2 separate regions of the Homo sapiens genome follow, and region 2 is linked to region 1. The links come from fine-mapping of genetic effects on gene expression. A gene starts in region 1. The other region holds a variant in brackets. All regions are shown on one strand. Distances are between the middles of the regions.

Evidence for each region. PIP is the estimated chance that this variant, and not a neighbour inherited with it, causes the effect.
Region 2: its variant is the best candidate, but not a certain one, in a credible set for the expression of TIMELESS in iPS cells (PhLiPS, PIP 0.89).

Annotation. Positions count from the first base shown.
Region 1 is chr12:56,447,547-56,451,931 of GRCh38, reverse strand. It overlaps TIMELESS (timeless circadian regulator), which reads left to right and starts at 2,506. Exons shown (of 29, transcript NM_003920.5): 1 at 2,506-2,622. It overlaps MIP (major intrinsic protein of lens fiber), which reads left to right. Exons shown (of 4, transcript NM_012064.4): 4 at 467-2,430. The coding sequence ends at 652. RefSeq lists enhancers at 2,763-2,852, 2,963-3,082, 3,105-3,625.
Region 2 is chr12:56,426,431-56,430,815 of GRCh38, reverse strand. TIMELESS (timeless circadian regulator) reads left to right here. Exons shown (of 29, transcript NM_003920.5): 10 at 535-711; 11 at 1,716-1,933; 12 at 2,164-2,267; 13 at 2,411-2,580. Among named protein-coding and RNA genes, the nearest start is that of TIMELESS, 21 kb to the left of the region's middle. The variant A/T (reference allele first, on the strand shown) is at 2,222.

The DNA.
Region 1 (4,385 bases):
TAGCTGGGATTTCAGGCGCCTGCCACCACGCCCAGCTACTTTTTGTATTTTTAGTAGAGATGGGGTTTCTCCCTGTTGGTCAGGCTGTTCTCAAATGGCTGACCTTGTGATCCGCCCGTCTTGTGATCCGCCCGTCTCAGCCTCCCAAAGTGCTGGGATTACAGGCATAAGCCACTGCGCCTGTCCAAAAATATTTAATATGGTAAATTTTATATGTGTTTTACCACAATGTATAAAATTTTTTTGAAAGCAACATACAAACTAGTGCAAATTGATAACAAATAGAATATACACATGCTAAGGTGTGGGATAAAGGAGTAATTTGATGAATCAGAAAATAAATGGTGAGTTTATTGTAGATATCAAGTGTACAATATCTTGTTTTCCACTAAGGTGGCTGGAAAAAGAGCAGCGTTGCTACTCTGTCCCCTCCCCAAGCCTGAGTATTCCTTTTCTCTTTCTACAGGTGTACTGGGTAGGCCCAATCATTGGAGGGGGTCTGGGCAGCCTCCTGTACGACTTTCTTCTCTTCCCCCGGCTCAAGAGTATTTCTGAGAGACTGTCTGTCCTCAAGGGTGCCAAACCCGATGTCTCCAATGGACAACCAGAGGTCACAGGGGAACCTGTTGAACTGAACACCCAGGCCCTGTAGAAGCTCCAGCTGAATAGAGGGAGTAGAAAGCTTCTGAGTTTACGTGGAGGGGTTTAGCCAGCCCCTAGATGAAGAAAGAGACTGTGGGGAGGGTCATGTACTTCTTTATTTTTTAACTTATGTATGTGGTTGTTTTTTTTTTTTTTTTCCTTTTGCTGTGTGAAATCTTTCAAGTTGCATTCATGAGCTGGTTGGTGCAAACTTCCCTTCCTCCCCATCCCACCACCCTTCGCCGTGTGTGCTGATTGTGCATATGAATGTGAGTGTGGCTGTGTCTGAGTTTTGGGGCATGAGAGCTAAGGAAGCAAAAAGAGGTGCCATCCTATACCTCCCTTCCTCGACCCAGTATGGTGAGTACTGGGTAACCGACACCTTAAGTTTCTGGCCTTTACCCTGCTGCCAGTCAAGTGTGTGGCTCTTGATTTCTGAGGGAACAGAGAAGCAGGGAGTTACTCCTCACACGAGGCAGATGGAGAGAAGTGGAGGAGACAAGGCTTCCAAGGGTTAGGAGAAGGGACTCAAGGGAGGTGGGTGGTGAAAACGGAGTATTAGCCCCAGATCAGGATGTAGGTGTACCGAAGAATTGGGGGGAAGTTAATGGGAATATATAGCCTACTTATCTTAGGGATGCTTGCCCCAGGGACTTGGGTGGGGAAGTAGCTCTGAGAAAAGTGAACACTAGGATTTAGCTGTTCTGTAAAGCCACGTAAACCTGTCTACATCCGCTGGCTGGTTGTGTTCATTCTGACATAATGGATCTCTTCAGAGGTCCTGGGCCAAAGAGCTTCCAACCTAAATAGAGCTTGGGCAAGCCTAGAATCTAGAAAAATTAAGCAGCTTAACTGGTCAGCCTGACATCCACTGTTGTGGCTGCCTGGCAGATGGTATTTAAGCCCCACAATTGTTCCCTAAGGCCAACACAGGAAATCTGATTCCTGGAGCAAATAAATGAACGGGTGGTAGTAGGGGGCATGAGGGGAGAGGCTTTGACTCTGTTCTAATTTATTTAGAGCAAATCAAAACACTCCTCAAATGGCATCTTTCTGCTTTTATCACTAGTTCCGTGTTTTTTTTCTTGTTTTGTGTCTGTGTATTTTCATTTCTCTGTCATCCGTCCTTTCATCTTGAAGCAAATCTCTTCTAACTCCCTCATACCCCAGAAATTGATTCCTTCTATTCAAATGCTTAATAATTCAGGAGATTATTATTTGTTTGAGCCCTATCTTCTTTTTTTTTTTGAGAGGGGGTCTTACTATGTTGACCAGGTTGGAGTGCAATGGATATTCACAGGCACGATCATCGCACACTACAGTCTAGAAATCCTGGGCTCAAGCGATCTTCCTGCTTCAGCCTCCCCAGTAGCTGGGATTACAGGGGGCCAGAGCACAGCCCTATTTTCTTTTCCTTTTGGCAAGATCATCTCAGCAGAGGCCAGAAGAGACCCTCAACTGTTCAATGAATATTTACGGTTGCTTTCTTCCTTTTATGAGCCTCTTGCATACTTTGAAAGCTTTAAATTTATACCTATAATACAACGGACATCCCCTATCCCAGAAGACCATTCCTCCCTGTACTTCAGCTCTTTACTTCCTCCCAAATAAAACCTAACTTTTCTAACTAACTATTTAAGACTTGGAATAGTCCGCTTGACTAGAAGAAGGGGAAGAATGTTTGTAAATTCACCTCTAATCGGACTTTGATTCTACTATAATTCAGCAGAAAATTCATAGCGCTGTGATTTTTAGATCGACCTCACATAAAACAGTCCCTGCACTCGCTTCCCTTTTCCTTCCTTCTTCACCAATCTCCGCCCCAGTTCGCTCGGAGTCACGTGGACCAGCCCGGCTCGCCCCGCCTCGCTCTTCGCGCAGGCGGGGACCGGTCCAGCTGAGCCTGGTGGCGGAAAGGCTGCGGCCCCGCGCCAGAGGGCCGGTGGCTCCTCCGGGCTTCTGAGGACCCGCAGGGAGCGGGTGAGTGAGTGTGTGGCGAGAGGGCGCTAAGCGGACACGGGGATCCTTTCGAAGCTATGGGGGCATTCTCGGGAAACGCTGAGTCCCTTTTCCCGCCACCCGGTTTAGAGCCAGGGGGCGGGGCTCGTGCTGCAGGCGCGCACGCGCAATTCTGTACTCTGCTCCTTAGTCTCCCGCGCCGCGTTCCCGGGTCTCACCGGACGCGGGCTTAGCCCTACGCTGCTCCGCACAGCTTGGGTCTCCCGCGGGATGGGGTTGTGATGGAAAGGGGCTTGGAATTCCTGAATTAGAACAGAAAGTGCCTGAGGGAGTTCCACTTCGGAGCTTAGCATCTAGTTGAGACCTCCTGAAAAAAACCGGTGTGTGGCCTGGCGGTCAGCAGTGGTCGGAATTCACAGGCCGCTTTACTTATATCGTGGGTTTTATGGAACGGATTTCTCACTCCCTCCCTTCGTTGCCTTGTTCGGGTTTGTCACCTGGACCTCAGCCGCTAATGAAGCTTTTTTCCTTGAGCCTCTCAATTCTTTGCCATTCGTGCTTCGACTAGTACTTTCAATTTTTTATTTATTTTATTTTATTTTGAGACGGAGTCTCGTTCTGTCGCCCAGGATGGAGTGCAGTGGCGCCATCTCGGCTCACTGCAACCTCCGCCTCCCGGGTTCAAGCGATTCTCTTGCCTCAGCTTCCTGAGTAGCTGGGATTACAGGCGCGCGCCACCATGCCCGGCTAATTTTTGTATTTTTTTTAGTAGAGATGGGGGTTTCACCTTATTGGTCAGGATGATCTCAAACTCCTGACTTCGTGATCCGCCCGCCTCGGCCTCCCAAAGTGCTGGGATTATAGGCGTGAGCCACCGCGCCTGGCCTGTTTGTTTTTTTTGGTTGTTTTGTTTTGTTTTGTTTTTGAGATGGAGTCTGGCTCTGTCGCCCAGGCTGGAGTGCAGTGGTCCGATCTCGGCTCACTGCAACCTCCGCCTCCCCAGTTCAAGCGATTCTCCTGCCTCAGCCTCCCCAGGAGCTGGGATTACAGCTGCCCGCCACCACGCCCGGCTAATTTTTGTATTTTTAGTAGAGATGGGGTTTCACCATGTTGGCCAGGCCGGTCTCGAACTCCTGACCTCAAATGATCCGCCCGCGTCGGCCTCCCACAGTGCTGGGATTACGGGTGTGAGCCACCACACCCGGCCCTACTAGTACTTTGTACAAAGTAAAGGTAGATCATCTGATGTTAAATTTAAAACTCCTCTTTGACCACCCACAGTTAGCCTTAAATCCGTAGGTGGGTGTCTGTGGCCTCTCAGTCTGGCCCTGACCCTCTCAATCTCATTTTGTAAATCTCTTACGCACCTGACTCCTGGCCACGTGGAAAGATTGTGGCTGCCCTCTTTCATATCTCAGTACTTAGTTCCTGCTGTTCCTTCTGCTTGGAAGATCTTGACACTGCTCTGCCAAGCGAACTTCTCTTTGAAGACTGAGCTTAATTGTCCCTCTGAAAATCAATGTATCCAGCTTCCTATGCCAAGTTAGTCACTTCTTCCTGTGTGTCCCTGAAGTTTTTTACCCCCCTCTATTACCAGGGGCACTGATACAGCTCAATAAAAGATCAATAAAAGGTTACTGAGCTCCTAACATGTACCATGCACTGTGCTTAGCGCCAGGCTTACAGAGATGAGTAGGATGGAGAGTTCCCGACCCTTAAGGAACTCAAGTCCTAAGGAAAACACATGTAATTGAGTCTTCTGTGGTTACAGTGAAAGGGTCATC
Region 2 (4,385 bases), 21 kb after region 1:
TTAAGAGTTCTTGGCTGTGCCTGGTGGCTCACACTTGTGGTCCCAGCACTTTGGGAGGCTGAGGCAGGAGGATTGCTTGAGCCCAGAAGTTCAAGATCAGACTGGGCAACATGGCAAGACCCTGTCTCTAAAAAAAAAATTAAATTAAAGGTTGGGTACAATGGCTCATGCCTGTAATCTTAACACTTTGAGAAGCTAAGGAAGGAGAATTGCTTGAGCCCAGGAGTTCGAGACCAGCCTGGGCAACATGGCAAAACCCTGTCCCTACAACAAGTGAAAAATACTAACTGAGCATGGTGGCACCCGCCTGTGGTCCTGACTACTCGGGAGGCTGAGGTGGGAGGATTCCTTGAGCCCAGGAGTTCAAGGCTCCAGTGTGCTATGATTGCATCATTACACTCCAGCCTGGGTGACAGAGCAAGTTCTTGTCTCAAAAGAAAAACAAAAATTAGTTTCTTCTGAGAAAATTGACGAGAGCTGCAAGGGGAAAGTGGTATTTAGGAGTAATTCTAATCCCCCAACCGACACACCCAGCTACGAAACTACAGTTCAGATTTGGGAAAGCAGCCGAAAAAGGTGCCTAAACGTCGCCAGGCCGCCCGAGAGCTGTCCATTCAGCGCCGTTCTGCCCTCAATGTGAGGCTCTTCCTCAGAGACTTCTGCTCTGAGTTCCTGGAGAACTGTTACAACCGGCTCATGGGATCAGTAAAGGTGAGAACCTGTGAAGGATATGGAGATAATCAGGAATGGAATAGACAGGTGATGATGCAGCTGTTGGTGGGTAAGAAGTGGGGAGGAGCTCGGGGAGGCTGCCCCTGGAATGTGGACTCGTAGGTGGGAAGGATATACAGTTAGGATGTCCCTGAGAGATAGTGAAAATGCCAGGAACGAGTGGGCTCCTGGCATGACAAAAGAGGCTCTGGAAAAATTGCCTCAGAGGGAGAGGAAAGGGAGAACAGGAGAGAGTTGGAAATTGTGGATCCTAGAGTATTATAGCGGTGTCCCGGCGTGGTGGCTCACACCTGTAATCCCAGCGCTTTGAGAGGCTGAGGCAGTGGATCACTTGAGGTCAGGAGTTCAAGACCAACCTGGCCAATATGGTGAAACCGTATCTCTACTAAAAAAAAAAATACAAAAAAAAAAAAAAATTAGCCGGCATGGTGGTGTGCATTTGTAGTCCCAGTTACTCAGGAGCCTGAGGCAGGATAATCACTTGAACCTGGGAGGCAGAGGTTGCAGTGAGCCGAGATCAGACCAGTGCACTCCAGCCTCATCATGACAGTGCAAGACTGTCAAAAAAAAAAAAAAAAAAAAAAAAGACCAGGCGCAGTGGCTCACGCCTGTAATACCAGCACTTTGGGAGTCCAAGGCAGGTGGATCACCTGAGGTCAGGAGTTTGAGACCAGCCTGCAACATGGTGAAACCCCATCTCTACTGAAAATACAAAAAATTAACTGGGCGTGGTGGCGGGCACCTATAATCCCAGCTACCCAGGAGGCTGAGGCAGGAGAATCGCTTGAACCCAGGAGGTGGAAGTTGCGGTGAGCCGAGATCATGCCATTGCACTCCAGCCTGGGCAATAGAGTGAGACTCCGCCTCAAAAAAAAAAAAATTATGACGGTGTCCAGCATCCATTCCATCATCATAGGACAGGAAGGAAGAAGTTGGAAGCCCTGGAGTCATGGTGATCTTTTTTTTTCTTTTTTAAATGTCAGGATCACCTGCTTCGGGAGAAAGCTCAGCAGCATGATGAGACCTATTATATGTGGGCCTTGGCTTTCTTCATGGCCTTCAACCGAGCTGCCTCCTTCCGGCCAGGCCTGGTTTCTGAGACCCTCAGTGTCCGTACCTTCCACTTCATTGAGCAGAACCTCACCAACTACTATGAGATGATGCTGACTGACCGCAAGGAAGCTGCCTCCTGGGCACGCCGGTGAGTGGGATGGTTACTGGAGATACAGTGAGCTAGGGATCTGAATGCTTGAATTCTGGCTGGTGCTTTTTTCCTGATTCAGGGTTCAGGTGATCAGTCTGGGGAGCAAGGACTGGCTGGGAAATTTAGTTTGGGTGGCACATTTTTTTTTTTCGCTGTGGGAAGTTGCTGTTTCCATGGGCCATTGCCCTAAGCTGTCCTCCATTTCACCGTTTCCCGTCAACTCTCAGGATGCACTTGGCTCTGAAGGCCTATCAGGAGCTGCTGGCAACAGTGAATGAGATGGAC[A/T]TATCTCCAGATGAGGCTGTGAGGGAGAGCAGCCGCATCATCAAGAGTGAGGCCCTGGCCTGGTCCCCGATCCCAGCCTGTCCCATCTCGTGATGAGAATCTCATTCTTCCCAGTCCCAGCTTCATCCATCTCTCCTTTTCAAGCTTTCCAGAATAGCCCTTCCATCCCTTTCTCTTCCCCATTCCTAGACAATATTTTCTATGTGATGGAGTACCGAGAACTATTCCTGGCACTTTTTCGAAAGTTTGATGAGAGATGCCAGCCCCGCTCTTTCCTTCGTGACCTGGTGGAGACCACCCACCTCTTCCTCAAAATGTTGGAGCGATTCTGTCGGAGCCGTGGGAACCTGGTGGTGCAGGTACTGGGCAGCCCCACAATGTAGAAAGAGCTGTAAGGGAGAGTCAAGGAAGGGGGGCTCTTTCTTCTCACAGTTTGTACAGCTTAAGTTCATCTGTTAAACGTGCTCTGAACTACGACAGCAAGAGGTTTGTGGGTGTTGGCCAGTGTGAGTCTACTACAGTTTCCTTCTCCCATTAGAATAATCTCTGATCTGCCATAAATATTTTAGTTCAGTCAGGAAACATTTATTGAACACCTACCACATGCCAAGTACAAAAACCCTGGGGATTCATAATTTTAGAGTCTAATAATTATGCTATAGCATTTTCTGGTTATACCTTGAAAGCATTGTGGTGAGGTGGAAAGAGCCTTAAATTGCGGCCAGGCATGGTGGCGCACACCTGTAATCCCCGCGCTTGAGGAGGCCAAGGTGGGCAGATTACTTGAGGTCAGGGGTTCAAGACCAGCCTGGCCAACATGGTGAAACCCCGTCTCTACTAAAAATACAAAAATTAGCCAGGCGTGTTGATGCACACCTGTAATCCCAGCTACTCAGAAGGCTGAGACAGAATCGCTTGAATCCAGGAGGTGGAGATTGCAGTGAGCCAAGATCATGTCACTGCACTCCAGACTGGGTGACACAGTGAGACTCTGTCTCAACAGCAACACAAAGAGAGCCTTAAATTGAACTTTAGAAAGTCTGGAATCTAGTCCTGTATTGGTTATTATTGGAATAAGCTCAAGCTGGTCGTGTCGGTCTCCAGATCCATAAAGTTGGGATTGTGACAGTTGTCCATGAACCCAAAGTGGAATCAGTGAAAAGCCTAGGACAGGCTGGGCACAGTGGCTCATGCCTGTAATCCCAGCACTTTGGGAGGCCACAGTGGGTGGATCATTTGAGGCCAGGAGTTTGAGACCAGCCTGGGCAACATGACAAAACTCCTTCTCTACTAAAAATACAAAAATTAGCTGGGTGTGATGGCACGCACCTGTAGTCCCAGCTATTTGGGAAGCTGAGGCACGAGAATTGCTTGAACCCATGAGGCAGAGGTTGCAGTAGGCCAAGATCATGCCACTGCACTCCAGTCTGGGCCACAGAGCAAGACTCTGTCTCAACAAAAAACAAAAACAATTCACCAGCATGGTGGCACATACCTGTAGTCCCAGCTGCTCAGGAGGCTGAAGCACGAGGATCACTGGAACTTAGGAGTTTGAGGATGCAGTGAGCTGTGATTGAGACATTGCACTCCAGTCTGGGTGAGACCAAGACCCTATCTCTGAAAAATAAAATTATTGGTTCACATTAAAATAAAAAAAACCCTGGGACAAAATGCAAACTCCAAGGAATTTGTATCCTGGAAACACAGAGACTTTGCTTTGTATAAACAGATTTTGGGCCAGGCGCGGTGGCTCATGCCTGTAATCCCAGCACTTTGGGAGGCTGAGGCGGGCAGATCACTTGAGGTCAGGAGTTCACGACCAGCCTGGCCAACATGGTGAAACCCTGTCTCTACTAAAAATACAAAAATTAGCCAGGCATGGTCATGCGCACCTGTAATCCCAGCTTCTTGGGAGGCTGAAGTGGGAGAATCACTTGAACCCGGGAGGCGGAGGTTGCAGTGAGCCAAGATCATGCCATTGCACTCCAGCCTGGGCAACAGAGCAAGACTCCGTCTCAAAAAACAAACAAACAAACAAAAATTAGCCTGGCGTGGTGGCACACACCTGTAATCCCAGGTACTTGGGAGGCTGAGGCAGGAGAATCGCTTGAACCCAGGTGGCAGAGGTTGCAGTGAGCCGAGATCACGCCATTGCACTCCAGCC